3 linked regions of the Homo sapiens genome follow. The protein of the gene in region 3 purifies or fractionates together with the protein of the main gene of each other region. This does not show direct contact. Each region holds a gene or a part of one and is shown on either strand. Other genes may lie near its edges.

The links.
Region 1: the proteins of NUSAP1 (region 3) and GSTA2 purify together in Homo sapiens (affinity purification with mass spectrometry; 2 studies listed by BioGRID and IntAct, with this or other methods). This does not show direct contact.
Region 2: the proteins of NUSAP1 (region 3) and MACIR purify together in Homo sapiens (affinity purification with mass spectrometry; 3 studies listed by BioGRID and IntAct, with this or other methods). This does not show direct contact.

Annotation. Positions count from the first base shown.
Region 1 is NC_000006.12:52,760,377-52,767,645, forward strand, and holds the start of GSTA2 (glutathione S-transferase A2), read right to left. Parts: upstream 3,100-7,269; 5' UTR 3,068-3,099; intron 1-3,067. UniProt on the Homo sapiens protein: Catalyzes the conjugation of glutathione to a large variety of electrophilic compounds.
Region 2 is NC_000005.10:103,254,060-103,261,861, reverse strand, and holds the start of MACIR (macrophage immunometabolism regulator), read right to left. Parts: upstream 3,100-7,802; 5' UTR 2,966-3,099; intron 2,833-2,965; exon of another isoform or gene 2,667-2,832; intron 2,638-2,666; exon of another isoform or gene 2,585-2,637; intron 2,439-2,584; exon of another isoform or gene 2,071-2,438; intron 1,957-2,070; exon of another isoform or gene 1,846-1,956; intron 1-1,845. UniProt on the Homo sapiens protein: Regulates the macrophage function, by enhancing the resolution of inflammation and wound repair functions mediated by M2 macrophages. The regulation of macrophage function is, due at least in part, to its ability to inhibit glycolysis.
Region 3 is NC_000015.10:41,349,768-41,356,925, forward strand, and holds part of NUSAP1 (nucleolar and spindle-associated protein 1), read left to right. Parts: intron 1-1,220; coding exon 1,221-1,362; coding exon of another isoform or gene 1,363-1,380; intron 1,381-6,271; coding exon 6,272-6,373; intron 6,374-7,158. UniProt on the Homo sapiens protein: Microtubule-associated protein with the capacity to bundle and stabilize microtubules. May associate with chromosomes and promote the organization of mitotic spindle microtubules around them.

The sequences.
Region 1 (7,269 bases), on a different chromosome or scaffold from region 3:
ACCATTGAGCTTTGTTGGGTCAACAGAAAATGAGAACCAGAGAGCTCAAGGATTTGCCATGGGTCATACACACATGCTCCTCATTCATAGTCAATATCTAGGGAGTGTGTTTACCTTCTGCAACAACCCTGGGAAATGGCTCCTATTATCCTAATTAAAGATGGGTACACTGAATTTCAGAGAGCTAAAGCACCTGTCTCATGCTGCACACGTGGTGAGTGTTGGGTCAGCCTGAACTTCTGATTGCAGGTCCGGAGCTTTTCCACTCCACCTCATAACCTGGCTCTCAGCTCCTGTCTGAGAAGTTGTTTTGTATTTTCCTATTCAATGTATATTAGCCAAATAAATGTTGGAAGGAGAGGGCGAGAGGGGAACATCTAATTCCTGAGTTCCTCCTGTTAGCAACTTTTCAGGGGCTTGCTTGGAAGAAAAAACTAATAAAAGTGTGCCTTTCTCTACTTTGACAACCTAAAAACCAGAGTGAGTTGAGGACTAGTGTAATTACTTTACATCAATAATTAATTTACATCAATTAAAAAATGGGCTTGTTTTGAAAGGACTATAAGGTCTCATATTTCCAGGAGTAAATTAAAGGAGTTACGTCTCTGAGGTTGTCCCAGTGACACTGTTTCTTATCAGAGAGAAGGGAGAATGAGATAAACCATGACTCCTTCCATTATGAGATTCATAAATGCAGTAGGTTGTTTAATCTCTGAGCCTCAATTTTCTCTTCTTAGATTAGAGATAGTTATTTCTACTTTTGAGGGTTGTTGAGAAAGTTAAATGAGATAATGTAGAAAAAAATCATAGTAGGAACACAGGGTGTTTGCTCTTGTCCCAGTGCTTGGAAGATGGGTGAGGCTCTGGACACATTGAGTAGCCCATGGATCTTCTTTCTTTGATCTATCTATCCACCAATTATTTTACCAACCAACAATCTATGTACATGTATCTGTTTATAATCTCTGTCTACCCATCCATGTATGTATTATTTTATCTATCAATCGTTCTATGTATCTATCTCTCTGTAATCTGTCTCTTCATCATCTATTATCTATCTTGTATCCATTTCTCTGGTTCTCTATATTTTGTCCGTAGAACTCTAGTAGGAATAAGATTTTATATGAATCCAGACTTATATCAAATCTGTCATATGATGGCTCTCTGTTTCTCTCTCTCTTTGCTTTTTAGCTCCTGTACAGAGGTCAATGATATTCACTAATCAGCCCACCTGGATTAACAGGAAGTTTTCAGTGAATGTCCAAGCAGTGGGGCACATCGGTAACACAGCCTTGCTTAGCCCCATGAGGTCATGTAGTCCCATGGTTCTCAACCAGGGGGATTTTGTTCCTCTGCTCCAGAGGACATTGAGCAAGGTCTAGAGACATTTTGGGTTGCTATATCTGCAGAGAGGGAGGGGGGCTACAAATCAGATAGGTAGAGGGCAGGGATGTGTGGGGAAAAGAAAGAGAGATCAGACTGTTACTATGTCTATGTAGAAAGAAGTAGACATAAGAGACTCCATTTTGTTCTGTACTAAGAGAAATTCTTCTGCCTTGAGATGCTGTTAATCTGTAACCCTACCCCCAGCCCTGTGCTCACAGAAACATGTACTGTGTGGACTCAAGGTTTAATGGATTTAGGGCTATGGAGGATGTGCTTTGTAAACAAATGCCTGAAGGCAGTATGCTTGTTAAAAGTCATCACTATTCAGTAATGTCAAGTACCCAGGGACACAAAACACTGCGGAAGGCCGCAGGGACCTCTGCCTAGGAAAGCCAGGTATTGTCCAAGGTTTCTCCCCATGTGATAGTCTGAAATATGGCCTCGTGGGAAGGGAAAGACCTGATAGTCCCCCAGCCCGACACCCATAAACGGTCTGTGCTGAGGAGGATTAGTAAAAGAGGAAGGCCTCTTTGCAGTTGAGATAAGAGGAAGGCATCTGTCTCCCGCTTATCCCTGGGCAATGGAATGTCTTGGTGTAAAACCCAATTGTATGTTCCATCTACTGACATAGGAGAAAACTGCCTTAAGGCTGGAGGTGAGACATGCTGGCGGCAATACTGCTCTTTAATGCACCAGATATGTTTATGTATGTGCACATCAAAACACAGCACATTTTCTAACCTTGTTTATGACACAGAGACGTGAGTTTGTTCACGTTTTCCTGCTGACCCTCTCCCCACTATTATCCTATTGTCCTGCCACATCCCCCTCTCTGAGATGGTAGAGATAATGATCAATAAATACTGAGGGAACTCAGAGACTGGCGCCAGCGCAGGTCCTCCATATGCTGAGCCCCGGTCCCCTGGACCCACTTTTCTTTCTCTATACTTTGTCTCTGTGTCTCTTTCTTTTCTCAGTCTCTCATCCCACCCAACAAGAAACACCCACAGGTGTGGAGGGGCAGGCCACCCCTTCAGGGATGCTTAGAAATATCCTAGAGTGGGCAGGACAGATCTCCGTTCAAAGAATTACACAGTTCGCAGCAACAGTCAGAGCCTCTTTCTTAGCTATTCTCTATATTGGCCATGAGTTGGTAGTACTCCAGAGACAGAATATGACTTGTCGTCGAGCTAATTAGTGGCAGAGGCTCAACTAGAATCTAGTCCTCCTAACATTCAAACTAATTTTTTCTAATTATAATAAACCTTAGTTTTGAATTTTCACAGCCAATATAGAATTACAGTGTCACAATTTACAATTGTGTGTTGACTATATATATAAAGAAATTTTTGCATACATTGCCACTTCTTCCAGCACTGATTATTCTCAGATTGTTTAAAATGCTACCATTTCTTTTTTCTCCTCATGTCATTGTTTCCCATACCTTTAAATGCTGAGGCCCTGGTTTTCTAAACTCTTCATTTTTACATTTCTGTAAAGATGTATCCAACAGAAAAGAAATAAACAGTTCTTGAACTGTCACCCAAACACACCAAGATGGCATGATATGAGTAAAAACAAACTTTTTCTTGTGCTAAGGACACATATTAGTGTATTTTTCTAGGAGGCTAGAGAGGAGGGTGTGAGGCAATGTAGAGAGATTTATAAGATCAGTACTTACTTTGTTAAATGCTGTCACCTTTGTGGCTGGACAACCGAATTCCAGGTCCTAATGTATTTATAAGCTCTTTGTTCCTCTCAATAGTTCCCTCCCACTGAAAGAAGGGTCAAGTTAGGGAAAAGCCACTCCCACACATTTCATGGCCAAGGGGCCACCTACTGGATTCTAAGACATGAGGCAAGTGATCTGCTTATCAGAAGACACTGGTTAATATGTTCCTTTTCAAGGTTGGTAATCAAAGTTTAAACAATACATTTCACCTAGATTTTGCTCTTTTTGCAAGTCAGCAGAAACTGGCTTTTTAAAGATACTTTTTTTCATGAGTTGGATGCAAAGACTAGGGCAACTGAAAAAACCCTATTGTGAGCATAGCTGGGAGAGGATGTCTGTGAAGGGCAAGCTGATGCCACCGTTTTCTTACTGGGTTGCCAAATAAAATATAGGACATCCATGTAAATGTGAATTTCAGGCAAACAATCAACAATTTTTTAGTTATAGCTATGTTCCAAACACGGTATGAAACCAGATTATACTGAAATATTATTTATCGTTTACCTGAAATTCACATTTAGGTGGGTATCCTGCATTTTATCTGACAAATCCGGGAACCCTATTTGCATATGCTATCCTCTTTGCGTCACTCAAATTGCCCATAATATAACAAATATGAAAGTATCCATCACCTGGATTCATCAATTGCAAATATTCTTTCTTCATCTACACCATGTAGGGGGTTATGTTGGACCCCAAGAAAGACAGGTCCATATATAAATCCCTAGATCCTGTGAACTTGATCTTATTTGGAAAAAGGCTCTTTGCAGATGTAATGAAGTAAAAGAATTTGAGATGAGATCATCTTGGTATATCTGGATAGGCCCCAAATCCAATGACAATTGTCCTCACAGCAGAGAGAAGAGAAGACACAACACACAGGGGGTGAGGTGCAGGAAGACAGAGGCAGAAATTAGAGTGATGTGGTCATGATCCATGAAAGTCCAGAAAGGCCAAGAGCCCCCCGAAACTAGAAGACGCAGGGAAGGATTCCTGGAAATCACTTCTAATCCAAACACGCTGGCACAATGACACACCAGGGAAAAATAATTTTAAATATAGTTACTTATACGTAATTCACATATACCATCTGTATCTTCGCAGCCAGGCCTGAGTGGCACTGAACGAACTGAGGGAAGGCTTATGCCCGGGTCCCCACAGAGCCTTAAGGAGGAGAGTGAGGATGAGCCAGGAGCACATGCACTGTAAGGGATGACAAGTTGGCCTGAGAGCAGAGGGTGGGTCTGTTTGCTCTTCAATATTTCCTCACCTCCTAGAAAACTGAGGGATCCATAGCAGACAGAAAGGTTGTTTGAAAATGCATAAGAAAAAGTGTTTTCATGAGAAATAAAATGGATGTCAAGGAAAAAAGAAAATTTCATTTTGCCATTCCCCAGAATGATAACTGTTTTCTTGTGCAGAATGTCAGAAGTAAATTTCTATACATGAGTTTTTGATAGGCAATTTCACAAATGTTGCAGGACAATTCTTGAAAAAGTCAAACAAACCACATAGTCTACATTGTACTTTTTACTAAATTTTTAATTCCAAGAAAATTTATGGGCAGTTCGGAAATCTGATTTCATATCAGATACTAATGAAAAGAAATCAATTTTAACTAAATCTGGTCATAGGCATTTTACTATGTAATTAGCATACAATTTTTAAAAAGTTTATTAACTTCACAATAGCCACAACCAACATTTAGATAAAGCAATTTATTGTTGCAAAACTTTAGAATATTGGTATTGCATGTTCTTGGCATCCATGCCTGCTTTATCAAACCTTGAAAATCTTTGTTGCTTCTTGTAAACCTTTTGCATCTATGGGAAGCTTCCTCAGGCTGCCAGGCTGCAAAAACTTCTTCACTGTGGGGAGTTTGCTGATTCTGATTTTCAGGGCCCGCAATGCACAAAGCACAGCCTCAGAGTGAAGCCAAGGACTGACACCACCATTAACACAACCCAGGGAATCTGCGCCCCTCCTACACAAAGACCAACTAAGTTCCCTCTATCAGCACCAGTAGGGAGGCAGAAAGAGACACTACGTGAGAAATGAAGATAAGAGGAAGAACATGCAGCTCACTAGCATTTTCCCAAAAAATGTCTTTAAGACTTTATTCAGTTCAGTCTTCCTACCCTCTTCCTTACACATGAATCTTGTAGATTCATGGCTCTTGTAGAAGATGAGAAAGAACAATGTGCCTGTGAGATATCAGCACAGATCAGTCTCTAAGCAGAAGAAGTGAAGATATGGGAAAATTGAGTTAGAAATGAAAATAGAAAATGTTAAAGTCAAACCATGGGGCCACTTTTTCCCATAGAGAGATATAGCTTTCGGGGACAGCGTGTTGGGAGAGCTGTGCACAAGGAACTCAGTTATCTGACAGCAGGAGCCAGAGCATAAGGAAGGAACCAGATGGAAAGGGCCCTGCTCAGACACACTTGGTGTGGGAAGATAAGGGCATATTGGGATAAAGGGCATCACAGAGAACTCAGGAACAGAAACCACAGTGAAATAAAGGGATGAGGAGAGATGCTGGGCCCTGGGTCCTTGGCATTATAAAAAGCGAAATATTCTTGGGGTAGCATGCACATCAGATTTCCTTGGCATAACAAGAAGGCATTTCCATGCCTCAGAATCAGGACTTGGAAGCTCATTTTGGAGACCTGGGGGGCCCTGAAGACCTGGAGAAGGCTGAGGTCAGAATGTGGCCAGTCCAAGGGCCCAGATACTAGATCCCAAGATGGGAGATGAGGAGCTGCCTCTTGAGGACTGGGAAATGGGTCACCTTTAGCACAGGGAAGTTGGAGATGAGGCTGGAGTCAGGCTCTTCCACGTGGTAGAGAAGTTTGACCAGGTGAATGTCAGCCTGGCTCAGCTTGTTGCCAATGAAGTAGTCTTGTTCATGGCTCTTCAACACCTGGAGAATCAGAGGAATCAGATCAGGAACACATGTGCAATGAGGCTGGGGCCTCTGCTTCTCCCTGAGTTTGTCCAGGCTGACTCTCCCTCTCCCACCTCTGCTTCCTTACTGGGCAGGTGCAGAGATCCAGACCTTTCTCCATGTTACCTGATTCAGTGAGAGAGTAAGAAGTGTGGCTCTGCTCACTCCTTGTTTGGAGCCCAGGCTCCCATTTTCTCTTCTCATTCCACATCACTATGGCATCCACAGCACCCACCCAGCTTGCAACTTCCACATGGGCCAGGGGCTTATCCCCTGCTGCAGCCTGTTCTGTCTGCCCCAGGCCCTACAGTGTGCATCCCTGATGTTCAATGGCTCTACACACTCTCTCTCCAGTCTCTCTTGGGCAGCGACTCCACCTTCATGACAGCACTCTTCTCCCACGAGTAGACTATTTCAGAATCCTCATTTCTCCTCATCTGCCCTCCTCATTTCCTGCTCTGGGATCTGAAATAAGCCTGGGTGAACTTTAATTCATCCTCTTTCTTGCAATGGTGGTTCTTACTGCTTTGACTATGTTATAATCTGCATGCCACTGTGTCCCAGGGTGAACTGCAAAGATGTCTGCAACTTACTTTGAAATGCACAATAATAATAATAATAATAATAATAATAATAATAATAATGTGTTTGAGTGAGGCAAACAGGGGTGGAGTGACTGACACGTGATAAATCAAAGATAAAAGGTTAACTTTGCTCTTTAGATCCTTGGTGTATATATGTTCATAAAACATTTCTTTGGACTACACTAGGTGTATTCATTTTTAATAATACAATTTTTGACTGATATATGATATTTATTAAAATATCTCAGCACATTGACATCATAAATAATAAAAAGAGAAAACATGGCAACATTGATTTAAGATAATATTTTGGCAAATACATTTTCACACTATGTATACATACAAACGTATAGATAATGACTTGGTACACAAACAAAACAACTTCAATGCTATATTGTAATATACATTGTTCAAATGCACATATCACAGGCTATTTGGTAGAACTCGTAGTATTCTTATTCACAGTCTATTTTTATACCATGCCTTGAGAGTCAGGTGCTCCATTAACATCAAGGAAAGCTTTTTGGAAGTGAAGGTCAATGCCCCAAAAATACACAGGTACTATTTTATTTTTCTGTTGCCTTGTGTTATGGACTGAATGTTTATGTTTCCCAAAAATT
Region 2 (7,802 bases), on a different chromosome or scaffold from region 3:
TGAAAGGACAAATTTTAGGCAGAGAAATTGGTACAGTAGAAGCTGTGAGTTCTAATTCTAGCTATCAAAACATTTATTTTCATTTTTTTCATGGCCCTAACCTGAAGCCCACCAAAACATTTTCAAGAAAGAAAAGAAAGAAAGAAAGAAAGAAAGGAAGAAAGAAAGAAAGAAAGAAAGAAAGAAAGAAAGAAAGAAAGAAAGAAAGAAAGAAAGAAAGAAAAAGAAAAACAGGTAGTATTTTCAGAGTGGCTATTTAAGAAGAGACCACTAATGGAAAAGCACTTGGAAAAAAAACATCAATTTTTAAAAATTCTTTCAAAATAGTGAAAATATTTTGTAACCACTAATCTCAAAGACCACTAAAAACAAGTAAAAGATGAACCAAAACATCTCTGGAGGAATACTAACTGAACACTAAGCAGAAATAAAATGGCTTAACTGTCAAAGTACAACACAACAATGAAAACAAAATGTTTAGCTGCACCTAGATGCTCATCTTAGAGGCTTCTTTCAAATATTCTTACTTTACCATTTGCAACTTGCAAAAAGTAAGTCATCAATACTCTTTAAGAAGAGTTAACTAGGGTGTGACTTTTCTGAAACCATCCTTGACCTTACAAACAAACCATTAACCTTGCCAACTTTGTAAGATAACCCATAATTCGTTCAGTAAGACAAAAATGTGTTTCTCTTTCTAGTATCAGTTCTTTTAATAGCAATCCACCCCCTTAAAGTGCAGCACTCATTATCTTTCCATTTCTGCTAGTAAAAATTAAACCTAGGTTACTAATATCTTCTTATCACGTGGTGTCATCCTTCTACTTTTAGAAAAATACTCAGTTTCACTGCAAATATGACCGACAGTAAGTGGAACTAAAGGTCAACATGCAGCCTTTACAAGAAATTTGTCTCTTAGGAAGTATCATCAAAATGGAACAGGTGTACACTGTGGAATTGGCTAATCTTTGGGAAGGCTTAAAACCAGGTACTCATTTTGATAGGCTGGTGACAAAATCAAAGTTCTCTCTGGAGGAAAGGAGCTGATCCCCCACCTCACCCCCAGCTACAAATCAGCAAAGAAATTTTAAACCCTGTACATAAAGCTTTATTACTCTAACCATATTAAGTACTTTTGAGTTAATTTTATAATAGCTCTCTAAAATACACAGAAATATACAAAGAAAATAAGCAAATTCATTGACTGTTATATAATATCAATAAATATATCTTATACACTGAAATAATTACTAACACTTTCATTTGCAATTAAATAAACTGTTAGCAAAAGCATATTCTATACATCAATTATTATCAAATTAACAGGTCTCTGTATTCATTAACTCTTATATTCCATCCTGTTCATTTTACTTTTCAGTTTATAATGCATTCACAGTTACATAATTAAAACACTGAGGATTCTGTGACACATTCATTAAACTTAATAGTGTAATCATAAATCGCGGCCAAAAGCTTCTGCCGTAATAACCAATACTATATTTTGAAATGACTGGGAAAATAAACTTTGCAAAAGGGTCATTTCTACCTCTATAGTGTCAATCCAGCATTACAGGATTTGAGAAAATAAAACAACTAACAACCCTAAATTGTAGGTTGGCTCTTCGGAAAAAAAAAAAAAAGGAAAATGAGTCTAGTAACATCAGAAATATGCAAGAATTGTTCTTTCAGCTAGGAGCGGCAAGCACACTGTAAAATGCCTCCATTCTTCCTGCTCAAATAAAAAGTTCCCAGCTCCAGCTTTACCTGTGCACCACACACACACAAACACACACACACACACACACACACACGGAAATCTTGGTTCCACCCAAATCAGTAACCCACTGGGTTGAAAACTGAGGTGGAAGGAGAGGCAGGGAGTCCCTAAGCGTGTGGAACACTAGCAAGGGGAAAAGGACGGGGCCATCATTCCCTTCGCGTTCCCATCTCCTTTCTGGCGGAGACCTGCAGATTCCACCACTAGAGAGAGTTTGGCAGCTTCACAATGGGGCCGCGTTGCTGGAGGTCTGACTGCCACCCGCCTCGAAACCCCTCTCCTCCGCTTCCCACCTGCCCCAAAGTCCACCCGCGACAGGTGGGGCGAGGGTGGCAATGCCCGACATCTGCCGCTTAAGCTTCTGGCTCGGACCGGGCCCCAATCCACACGCGCACACACGGCCACAGCCGGCCAGTCCACCCCCACTGCACCGGCAGACACTCGGAGGGCGCGGGCGGCCTCGCACGCGGGTTGCAACCAGGACGAGGAGGGTCGGCGAGATCAGACCGCCGGGGCTCGCCCTGAGGTGCTATCTGACCCGGGCAGTCGCACCCTGAGCGCGGCCGGGCACGCAGCCAAAGGTGCCGCCGGCCGGGGAAAGCTACTTCTCAAAGGGGCCTCCAGGCCCGCTGCCCCGCGGTGCGGGAACAGCGGCCAAGGGAGGGAGCGAGCGAGCGTGCGCGCCAACGCGCCCCGACTTCCGCACCGCGGCACCGCGGGAGAGGCGCTCCGGGTCGCCGAGTCCCCGCACCTCCCCAGCGAGCGCACGACGCGCGCACACGGGGGCGCACGCCCCCGCACACTCACACGCGCTGCACACTCACGGCGTCTGCGGCCCCACCCCTGTGCCAGGGAACCGCAAGCTCCCCGCACCCCGCGCGGGCCCCACCCAGTTTACCAGACCCCAGTCCCCTTCGGGTGCCTGGGAACCGGTCCACCAAGGCCAAGGGACGCTGGGGCCGCCCCGCCGCCCATCGCAGAAGCTGGTCCGGCCGGGTTTCCCCAGCACCGCGGGCATCGTGCGCCCGGCCCAGACACGAGGCGGAGAGGAAGGGGCGGCGCCGCGATTAGGGCTGGCACTGGGGATCGGAGCCTGGGGCAAACCCACTCCCCCAAGCCCCCCATAACCACCACCTTTTCTGCAGCACAAAAGGTTACAGACGGAGCCGTCGTCCCCGTGCAACCTACCGATGGCCCAGGGCTCCGCTGCCTCCGCCGTGCCCGGGGCTGCGGAGCGGGAGACAGGGGCGGGAGAGGCGCAGGACTGCGGCGCCGAGATCCAGGCAGAGGCCGCCAGCCGAGCCAGCCGGGTACCCTCTCCTCTCCCACCGCGCTCGGCGCCAGCTACCGCCCTGCTTAGTCCCCGCCCCCTCCTCCGCCTCCTCCTCCGCCTCCTCCTCCGCCCGCCTTCCCGCCTCCTCCCTCTGGCTGCAGAGGCGCAGCCCGTCAGCGCTGAGCCCGCCTCCTGCGCCCAGCTCTCAGACACCCGGAGGAAGGGCGGGCCGGCTGGCTGCAGAAAGGCGCTAAGAGGCCAGAAGAAGTTGGCGGGGGTGGGCGGGGTTGTTGACTGGTGGTGGGGAGGAGGAGTCGCAACACCCGCTCTCTAGTCTAAACCCAGCACTCCAACTAAAGAGCTCCAACTTGCGGACCTGGGAACACTCCGGCTTCCTCAGTTAAGTGGTGTGCTGATATTTGTCACTTGTGAGTCTCTGCTTAAAGGGCTCAGCACTAAGCAAAAGTACAGAAAACTAGAAGGCCATGAAATTAAAAATTATAGGATCAGTCTACGAAAACTCGTAATACCCAGTGAAGGTGGCGGGGTGGGGCGGGGGGGGGAGTTCAAATTCAGATTCTGATTGGATTAACTATTTTTTAATTTGCACAAATGTTGATCTTGTCTATTATTGTAATAAATTATTTTCTTTGATGAAGATTTGCTTCTCTCAATTCATGTACATTTCTGCCGAACTGGTTAAGCTCAGCAATAAGAATATTTACTGGCATGCATATCCAAATTTACATCTCTCAATAACCATTCTGTGAGGAAGTAACCAATTATGATCCACATTTTAAAAATGCAGAAAGTTTAGGTCATATGCCTACTGAGTGGCTAAGGCTGAATGTGTACGCAGTCGGTGAACCCCAAAATTGTTTATAAGTGTTATAAATTTCGGTACCAGTGTCCAATCAAGAGAGTTTTATTTTTTAAAAGACAAAATGCTTTATCTTAACATAAAAGACATAAATCTGGAGTAGATTAATATAAGTTTAAACGAGTCTTGATTCACACTTGTTCCAGAATCTACATATGTTCCTGATAATATAAAGGCAAAAAATATATAAACACCTCTAGTCCAACAGAACCACTCCCGGAGGCCGCTCAGCTATAAGCCATTTTATGCTACTGCTTATGTGCCCTAAAATAAGTAAAGGAAGGTAGAGGGAAGAATAAGTTTTAAGGAATGTTCCCTAAACAATTTTACAAAACATCAGTTACTTTTTTTCCCGACATAGATTTGCATGTAATTTCAAAAATATAGAAGCTAGCACAACATAATATGAATAAATAAATGAAGAAACTTTTTTTGCATCAGTACATTAGGAGAATACACCGAGAATTATTTCCGATTATAATCTGTTTGACACAATAGTGTATTGTCCTGATGATCATTCTCATAAAACCACCTCCAAAACATTGTATATTTTATATTAAGAGACTTAATTTCATTTCTTCCTGTCTGAAATCTTATAACTTTTTCAGAAGAATGTCTTGTACTTGCCCTTTGCGCTGAGAGTTTGGCAGTGTGCTTTGGCCAAAAGCAATAAAGTTCCCCTCTTAGTTTATTAGGCTCAAGGCTAGCTCTCTTGAGGGCATTGTCTCCAAATTGCCTCCCTCCCTGGGTGGTGTTCTATGCTCCCATCCTAACCCTGAATCTTCACCCAATCAGAACCTAAGTCAGTTCTTGAGTGTCACAAAGAACACCTAATAAACCAATTCACCATGCAGTAATGGTTGATAATAGCTTTATGTGTGGCTCCATCAAGGATATGTTTATGCCACCTAGAGATACTGACTGGGTATTGTCTTCACTCGGATTGGATGTGGGTTGCAAGTGCCGTGGCTGAGGGGCATATAAGAGGTGCAAGTTAATGCAGAATCCCTTCCCAGAGCTTTTTAGTGTTTTAGGAAGATCTCTTCAACCTATAAAGAAAAATGGCATTCATATAAAGGGTTAGGCCCAAATGTAGAATAGACCCAGAGCCCTGAAAGGCCTTCTGAATTTGGGGACTCAGAAGCTCCATCTCACACACTCCTTGTGTAAGTTATGTCTTTGCCTCAAGGCATCCTTTCCAGAAAATCCCTTTAAAATGACTTTAAAATGTCAGCTGCCTGGGAAATATTATACTACGTTGATGTAAATGATGTCGGCTAGCAAACAACCAGCTTGAGAGAACAGAATAGGTGAATTTGATAACAACATAATGATGTAAAACAGAATCTACAAAGACAGGTGTGCAAGAAATACCACATTACCTTCTTTTCTATAAACTCATTTGTTTCAAGCAGGGTCTAACCAGGAAAACAGAAACCATTTTGAGTATCTACAGAAGTAATTGAATGCAAGAAATTGGTAACGTAGGTGATAGGAAAAGTCAGAAGCTAATCAGGAGATGGCACAGTAATCCAGAAACTAGCAACTGCGACCTCTAGCTGGAGAAATAAGAGAAGAGGCAGGGTTATTGGAGTCCAGGGCCCAGGCAGCATGGCCAGCCTGGTGAGAGCTGCGGCCATAGAGGAGAAACAACCACTGCCAAAGAAGCAATCTAGGGAGGGAGAAGGGGGAAATGTACTATACGTTCTCCTCTCCTGCCCTCCAATCTCCTTCCAGTGCCTTGCATTGGCCAAGTCTGATACACCTGCCATGGGAGCCAGGGAAACAGCCTACGGGGATCAGCCCTTTGAGACACTGAGGAGACTAGGAGAAGAACATAGAACGTGAATCTGCACTTGATTTTATTTCTCTTTAAAGGCCTTACTCTTTTGTAAAGTTCTTCCCTCATTCCCTCGAGCAGGGTCAAAGTTCCAAGAGCATATGCCAGACCAGACCATGAATGGGTGATGATGGCAGGGAGTGGAGGGGAGGTCCTTCGGATTGCAGTCATCTGTCCACAGAGGTTTCCTTTGTTCCTTCCTGGAGCTGCCACCTATGGTTCCATGATACAGTGCACAACCTGCCTATAGACGAGACGGCCCTGCCCTATACACTGGTTCCCTCCCTTTGGCTCCGGCACCACACCTGAGGCCAGAGGAATTTCCTAGATCTGGGACCATCCTGCTAAGCCTCACACATCCTCGGTCATTTATGTTTAGGGTATTATGGTGGTCCAAGTTCAGGGCTCAAATCCCACTGCCTTGGGACATACTGACTTCTATCCTCTTCTTTCCAGATACAAGGGAATCACTTCTTAAGGAAAATCCTTCCTCTTCATTTTTTTTTTCCCAGACACTCTGCCATTGCCAGCAAACTCTATTCTGTCTCTGGGGGCTCAGGTTGTTTTCAGTAAGAGCCAGAATGAAAAAATGATCTGCAGGCAACTCCTCTCTACCCTGCCACATCTCTCCCGAAGGCAACAAGGGGGTAAATACAAGTTGGAAAAAAAATCATAAATTAGTATCTCAAAATATTATCCAGCCATAGAAGTAAGAGACGGTTAGTATTGTGGACCAAGCTGAGGAGGAGAAAGGTGGAAGGAGCTTACTTTGGAATATGTTGAATTTGGTGACTCTGTGGCACATCCTCATGGAGGTGTCAAGCAGAAGGCCAGATATGTGGAGTGGGCGCTCAGGAGGGAAATTCAGGCTGCCCTTCAGCTCTTGCTAGACCACTTCTAACTCCACACTCACATTCTGCTTATTCATTATTTAAGCCTGTACATAATTGTTTCCTGTGGAGCATTCTTCTCCACCCCTCCCTCTCAGTCTAATTCTTTGCCATTCCTCAGATTTCATGTAGATGTCACCACCTCTAAGAAGAGTTTTCTGATTCCTACTGATATTTCTCATTTCCCTGGCCTAATACCACACAGTGCTGAAATATACTATCTCCCCCTCTAAACTATACATTCCCTGAGGTCTCAGACTATGTCTAACCCCCAAAGAAAGCCCAGAGACTGACATATAACAGGTGCTCAGTAAATATTTAGCCTATTTTTACTGCGAGGAGTGGGAGAAGAACCTGTAGTAAGGTCTGCTGAAGCCAGCTTGTATCTTGTATCTGGCTCAGAAGTACTGATTGCTAAATTTTCAGGAACTTTGCAAACTGGTTGTTAAATCATCAGTAGCTTGAAATCAGCTATGGTAGGAGTATTTACACCATAGAAATTGGCAAATTCTATAAACAGGGCTTCCCATTTCTCTCTAATCTCCCCACCCCCCAGAAAGCCAGTTTACCAGCATACCATTTGATAATCTTCAAAGGGCCCCTCCTGTGTGCGGAGGAGGACAGCAGTTCAGAGAATTAAAATCTGTGCTTTTAGAAATATTCTTTCATAGAAAGAAAATGTAATTAAATTCCATAATTTGCATAGAAAAGCCTATTTAACTCAATTATATCAATAAAAAAAGAAGATAGAAAATAGAGGAAACAAAAATATAACAGCATTATAAACAACAGAGAAATCACTTCTCAGTTCCAGCTTGCTGTGGGACCTCCGGTTGGTCACTAAATTATAAGCTTCTTAAGAAACTTGAGTTGTGTTTATACGTGTATCCTTTACAATATCTAGACTGGCACAGAACAGGTACTCATAAACTACCACTTGAATCTGGGCAAATTAAACTTTACTTCTGTTGGCCTCAGCCCCTTCATTCATAAATTAAGAGGTGAGAGAAATGGTTTTCAAGAGGGCCCAAGTAGCACCCCCTTTCCTGCCCCATTCCAAACAAATTGAGAAATAAAAGGCATAAAGGTGGCGCCAATTGTTTCTGTAACATTGGAGGACATAGTTTAATGTACAATTACAG
Region 3 (7,158 bases):
TTTTTTTTTTTTTTTTGAGACAGAGTTTCACTCTTGTTGCCCAGTATGGAGTGTGATGGCACCATCTCAGCTTACTGCAACCTCCACCTCTCAGGTTCAAGCAATTCTCCTGCCTCTGCCTCCTGAGTAGCTGAGATTACAGGTGGCCACCACCACGCCCAACTAATTTTTGTATTTTTAGTAGAGACGAGATTTCACCATGTTGGCTGGGCTAATCTTGAACTCCTGACCTCTGGTGCTCTACCCACCTCGGCCTCCCAAAGTGCTAGGATTACAGGTGTGAGCCACCATGCCCAGCCCTGAAACACAGTCTTAATTTTCTTTTCTATGTTCATATTGTTGCAGTAAACTGAGGAACGGAGAGACTAATACGGAGTACAGGAGGATTTGTTTATTTTAGGCACGCACCGGCTCGGAGGATTCACATCTAAAAGCTGAGCCTTGAACAAAGACTGAGCGGGTTTTTATAAGTGGCTTTACAGAAGCAAAATAAAAGCAATTAATCATACAGTAACAGGTTACATAATCTATAGCGTAACATAACTTGTGACTTAGCCAGTGGCCTTGTAGCTGCATTAAAAGAAAAACAAGAACTGGCTAAATACAGACATTTGTAAAACATAATCATGCTAATCATGCTTAAGAAGCCCGGGAAAAGAGTAACATTAAAAGAACTTGTATTTCTCTTTTTTTTTTCTTTCAACCTTGCTCTGGAACCAGGGGTCGGGGGGAGGGTGGTGTCTGGAGCTTATTCCTTTGGCCTTGGCTATTTGGACAGCGTTATCTTCTAACTGTCTTCAAAGTGAGCTACTAGGCAGAGGAAAACTTGTTCTTTTCTTTTTAACTCTTGCCTTGCCACATTCTGGGCCTTAGTTTTTACTTTTCTTGGAGTGAATAAATGCAGTACTTATTATTATTTAAATTTCTGCCTCAATGTAGTCACTTGCTCAGTAGACTGTCTAGGTTTCTTCATTTGTCCTTGCTAACAGAGCTAATCTTGCCATTTCTATTTTCCTCTTAATGTGCCCTAGTATCTCCTGTTCTCAAATTTACATTCTCGTGACAGTTGATAAGGCAGAGAACCAAATCTGCCACCAAAAATCTCATTCTCCTACTTTTCTTCCTTTAACCCCTTTTCCCCCTCACTTTGGTACTTATCTTTGGAAGGCAGCAATTCTTATTTATCATCGAAATCTTTTATTTCCTTTTTAAATTTGTAGCAGAATCATTCAGAGATAAAAATAAGTAATCCCACTGAATTCCAGAATCATGAAAAGCAGGAAAGCCAGGATCTCAGAGCTACTGCAAAAGTTCCTTCTCCACCAGACGAGCACCAAGAAGCTGAGAATGCTGTTTCCTCAGGTAAACGTGGAATAAATGGTATGTCAAGTAACTTTAAAAACCAAAATTGCTAGAAGTAGCCAGGTACATTAATTTCCTAGGACTGTTGTGACAAAGCACCACAACTGGGCAGCTTAGAACAACAGAAATTTACTCTTTCATAGTTCTAGAGGCTGGAAGTCCAAAATCAATGTGTCAGCAGGACCATGCTTCTCTGAGACTCTGGGTGGACTCCTTCCTTGCCTCTGACTACTTTGCGATGGCTGTCGACGCTTGGTGTTCCTTGGCTTGCAGCTGCATCATTACCAGTCTCTGGCTCTGACAGCGCATGACATTCTCTCTCTATGTCTTCTTAATAGGACAGCAGTCATATTGGATTAGGATCCACCCAAATAGGCCAAGCATAGTGGCTGGTGCCTATAATCCCATTACTTTGGGAAGCCAAGTCAGGAGGATTGCTTGAGCCTAGGAGTTCAGGACCAGCCTGGGCAACATGGTGAGACCCTGTCTCTACAAAAAGTCAAAAGAATCAGCCAGCCATGATGGTGCACACCTGTGGTCCCAGCTACTCAGGAGGCTGAGGTGAAAGGGTTGCTTGAACCCAGGAGGTTAAGGCTGCAGTGGGCCATCTTCATACCACTTCACCCCAGCATGGACAGAGTGAGACCCTATCTCAAAAAATTAAAAGAACATCCAAATGATGTCATTTTAACCTTAATACATCTGAAAAAAAATTCCCATATCTAAATAAGGTCATATGACAGGTACCAGTGGTTAGGACTTCAACATATCTTTTAGGGGGCCACAATTCAACCCATAGCACCATGTTATAGAATTTCTTTTTTTTTTTTTTAGACAGAGTCTTGCTGTGTTGCCCAGGCTGGAGTTGCAATGGTACGATCTTGGCTCACTACAACCTCCACCTCCTGGGTTCAAGCGATTCTCCAGCCTCAGCCTCCCAAGTAGCTGGGATTACAGGCTCGTGCCACCAGGCCCAGCTAATTTTTGTATTTTTAATAGAGACGGGGTTTCACCATGTTGGCCAGGCTTGTCTCGAACTCCTGACCTCGTGATCCACCCACCTCAGCCTCCCAAAGTGCTGAGATTACAGGCGTGAGCCACCGCACCCGGCCTTCCTTTCGCTTTCTTTTGCCTACTAAACCTCTGCTCTTAAAAAATAAAAAATAATAATAAATAAATGAAAATAAAATATCTCAGTATTAGTTTCACCTGGGCAAATCTGCTAGGGCCCTGAGCCTTGCCAGAGGAGGAGTTAGAGAGACTGAGAGAGGATAATTCATTCCAGTATCCACCAAGCAGTTAAATCTGGAATTTCTAATCCTGAGCCTTCTCATTTTCCCTAAAACTTTGAGTGTCATACTGAATCTAGAAAATTACAGGATTCCTTGGGTCTGAGATGGGCTTGGGAATCTTCAGTTTTTAACAAGTCTCCCAGGTAATTTTTAATTTTTATTTATTTATTTATTTATTTATTTTTGAGACAGGGTCTTGCTCTGTTGCCCAGGCTAGAGCACAGTGGCACGATCTCAGCTCACTGCAGCCTCAGCCTCCTGAGTACCTGGGACTATAGGCATGCACCACCACGCCCGGCTAATTTTTGTATTTTTAGTAGAGACAGGGTTTCACCATGTTGCCCAGGCTGGTCTCAAACTGCTGAGCTCAAGTAATCTGCCCACTTCAGCCTCCTAAAGTGCTGGGATTACAGGTGTGAGTCACCATGCCCAGCCAGCATTTTTTAATACAGGCCAGTTTTTTGTCCTCTGAGTTGGTTTGTCTAATATGTCCTCATGCTTAGAATCAGACTATGGGCTGTTGGCAGGAATCCCAAAGAGCAATGCTGTTGCTTCCTCAGTAAGCACCCTAGGAGGCACAAGTGCTGGTTTTTCCTATGGCTAGTCACGTTAACTTCCATCAGTTAGTTATGGTGGTGTCTGCTAGGTTGTTTCTTTGTGAAGTTACTCTTTTACCACTTGGAATTAGTAAGTATCCTGTGGAGAGTTACTCTACATAAATATCCTTTCTTTGTTTTGTTTTGTTTTGAGACAGAGTCTCTCTCTGTTGCCCAGGCGGGAGTACAGTGACAGGATCTCGGCTCATTGCAACCTTTGCCTCCCAGTCTCAAGCAATTCCACTGCCTCAACCTCCCAAGTAGCTGGGATTACATGTGTGCACCACCATGTTTTTGTTTTTTCAGTAGAGACAGGGTTTCACCATGTTGGCCAGACTGGTCTCGAACTCCTAATCTCAGGTGATCGGCCCACTTCGGCCTCCCAAAGTGCCAGGATTACAGGCGTGAGCCACCAAACCCTGCCAAATATCCTGTTTCTCATGAAACTTTCACCTTCTGGTTTTATAGCCAAAGTCTAAGCAGAAGCCCCTGCGACCATTCCAACACTGACAGAACATTCCTCTGCCTTGTTTTACGGATACATTGGGGAAACTTAAGGATGAGAACTTTAGAAATGGTATTTCTTGGAAACCCACTTGCTTGTAAATCAGTGGTTGAAAGAAAAGAAAAAAATAATTAAAAAGAGATGAAAGCTCATTGCATATTTTTAAAATAGATTGCCTGAAGTTGAAAAAGATGTAAGATTGAGGCTTTCTTATATTTGTAAGATTAGACTCATAGCTCTATAGCATATTATACGGGGCCCTTTATGGTTTAACCCGCTACCTGTCCTATTCTCAACGTCCTCCACTCCCTCTTATGCACCCTACACTTCAGCAATTTCAGCCTACCTCAGTTTCTCTGAATGTCATTATTTCCACTGTACTACAGCTTTATATATCACTATTGTTCCCTCTGCCTGGAATGGTTCTTTTCCATCCTTGCCTAATAAATTCCATTAAGGTCAAAAAAATAAAGAAACGACAGAATTTGGAAAATGATTATGGTAAGTGGGAAAAAATACCTAACCTAATATATACCATAATTTCAACTGAAGTTAAAAAATAATAATAATAAGCTGGCTACAGTGGCACATGCCTGTAGTCCCAGTTACTCAGGAGGCTGAAGCAGAAGTATCACTTGTGCCCAGGATTTTGAGGCCAGCTGGGCAACGTAGTGAGACCTTGTCTCTTCACAGAAGCAAACAGGCCAGGCGCAGTGGCTTACGCTTGTAATCCTAACACTTTGGGAGGCCAAGGTGGATGGATCACCTGAGGTCAGGATCGAGACCAGCCTGGGTAACATGACAAAACCCTGTCTCTACTAAAAATACAAAAATTAGCCGGGTGTGGTAGCTCACACTTGTAATCCCAGCTACTTAGGAGGCTGAGACAGGAGAATCTCTTGAACCCTGGAGGCAGAGGTTGCAGTGAGCCAAGATCGCGCCACTGCACTCCATCCTGGGCGACAGTGTGAGTCCGTCTCAAAACAAACAAATGACAACAACCAAAATAAGTATAGGAAGCAGAGGACCAGAGGAAATATGCCAGACGTTAATGGTGTTTTCTTTGGCTGATTGGATTACGTGACTTTTATCACTAGTTGTAACAATATTATGTTCATAATAAAAACTGAAAAAGTTTGTTTTAACCGATATATATATATATATATATGTTTAATTTATATTAAATAATTTTTTAGTAATAGAGACGGGGTCAGGGCAGGGCGCGGTGGCTCACTCCTGTAATCCCAGCACTTTGGGAGGTTGAGGCAGGCAGATCACAAGGTCAGGAAATGGAAACCATCCTGGCTAACACGGTGAAACCCTGTCTCTACTAAAAATACAAAAAAAATTAGCCGGGTGTGGGGGCGGGCGCCTATAGTCCCAGCTACTCGGGAGGCTGAGGCAGGAGAATGGCTTTAACCCGGGAGGTGGAGCTTGCAGTGAGCCGAGATCACGCCACTGCACTCCAGCCTGGGCGAAAGAGCGAGACTCCATCTCAAAAAAAAAAAATAGAGACAGAGTCTTGCTGTGTTGCCCAGGCTCGTCTCAAACTCCTGGACTCAAGCCATCCACCCACCTCAGCCTCCCAAAGTGCTGGGATTACAGGCATGAGCCACTGCACCTGGCCAACTTTCTGTATTTTTATTTTATGTATTTATTTATTTTTTTTGAGACAGAGTCTCGCTTTGTTGCCAGGCTGGAGTAGAGTGGCGTGATCTCAGCTCACTGCAACCTCCACCTCCTGGGTTCAAGCGATTCTCCTGCCTCAGCCTCCTGAGTAGCTGGGATTACAGGCACGCCCCACCACGCCCAGCTCATTTTTGTATTTTTAGTAGGGACAGGGTTTCACCATGTTGGCCAGGATGGTCTCCATCTCTTGAACTCATGATCCACCCGCCTCGGCCTCCCAAAGTGCTGGGATTACAGGTGGGAGCCACCGCGGCGCCTGACCAACTTTCTAATATGTTTATATAACTTCTCCACAGGTGTCAGAAAATTTCTGAATGCCTACTTGAAGCATATGACCTGTAATCGTAGGAATGCTGTAACTAATTTTTTGTGCTCCCTATGTGCTGTTTCTACCACCATCTTGACAGAGCCTACCATGTGAAAATACTCTGTTAACTTACACACGTTTTTTTTTTTGTTTTTGTTTTTGTTTTTGTTTTTTTAGAGGTGGAGTCTCACTCTGTTGCCCAGGCTGGAGTGCAGTTGCGCGATCTCGGCTCACTGCAAGTTCCGCCTCCCGGGTTCACACCATTCTCCTGCCTCAACCTCCCGAGTAGCTGGGACTACAGGCGCCCACCACCACGCCCGGCTGACTTTTTGTATTTTTAGTAGAGATGGGGTTTGATAGTTTATAAGCCAGGATGGTCTTGATCTTCTGACCTCGTGATCCACCCGCCTCGGCCTCCCAAAGTGCTGGGATTACAGGCGTGAGCTACCGTGCCCGGCCACATATTTCTTAATGAGAACTTTTTTGAAATCCTTCATTATTTCTGTGTCTTTGGATTTAGGTAACAGAGATTCAAAGGTACCTTCAGAAGGAAAGAAATCTCTCTACACAGATGAGTCATCCAAACCTGGAAAAAATAAAAGAACTGCAATCACTACTCCAAGTAAGTTTTGTAGACAAAGCCATAATAAGTAATGGTTGCCCCACTTCGGAATGATGTTGGACTGTAACAGCTGAAAGCATAGAGGCTGGAACCAGTTTACATTCTAGTTCTCTCGTCTTTTAGGTTTGATATCTTGGGGAACTTACTCATCCTCAATAAACTCACTTCCTCAGTGCAAAGTGGAAATAGTTATACTATAGTGCCTATTTCTTTCTTTTTTTTTTTTTTTTTTGAGACAGAGTCTTGCTCTGTCACCCAGGCTAGAGTGCAGTAGCGTGAGCTTGGCTCACTGCTACCTCCACTTCCCAGGTTCAAGTGATTCTCCTGACTCAGCCTCCCTAGTAGCTGGGACTACAGGTGTGCTCCACCACGCCCAGCTGATTTTTGTATTTTCAGAACAGATGGGGTTTCACCATGTTGGCCAGCATGGTCTCAACTTCTTGACCTCATGATCCGCCTGCCTCGGCCTCCCAAAGTGCTGGGATTCCAGGCGTCAGCCACTCTGCCTGGCCTATAGTACCTATTTCATCAGGTTGATAGATACATAAATTGAGAATACTTTTTCCACTACTGCTTCCCTATCACGGCAAATAGCATGCAGCAAGGATTCAATAAACAACTGATGAATCAATGTATGAACTACTTGGTACAATATCCACCTTCTAATGAGTTTTTCATAAGTCTAAATGATTCCGTTTTTGGGCATGTAAGTCTTCTCTATCTTATATTGTTGGAACATTGCTTGGCACATAGAATGTTGATTATTATATTTATAGTAGTTGCAA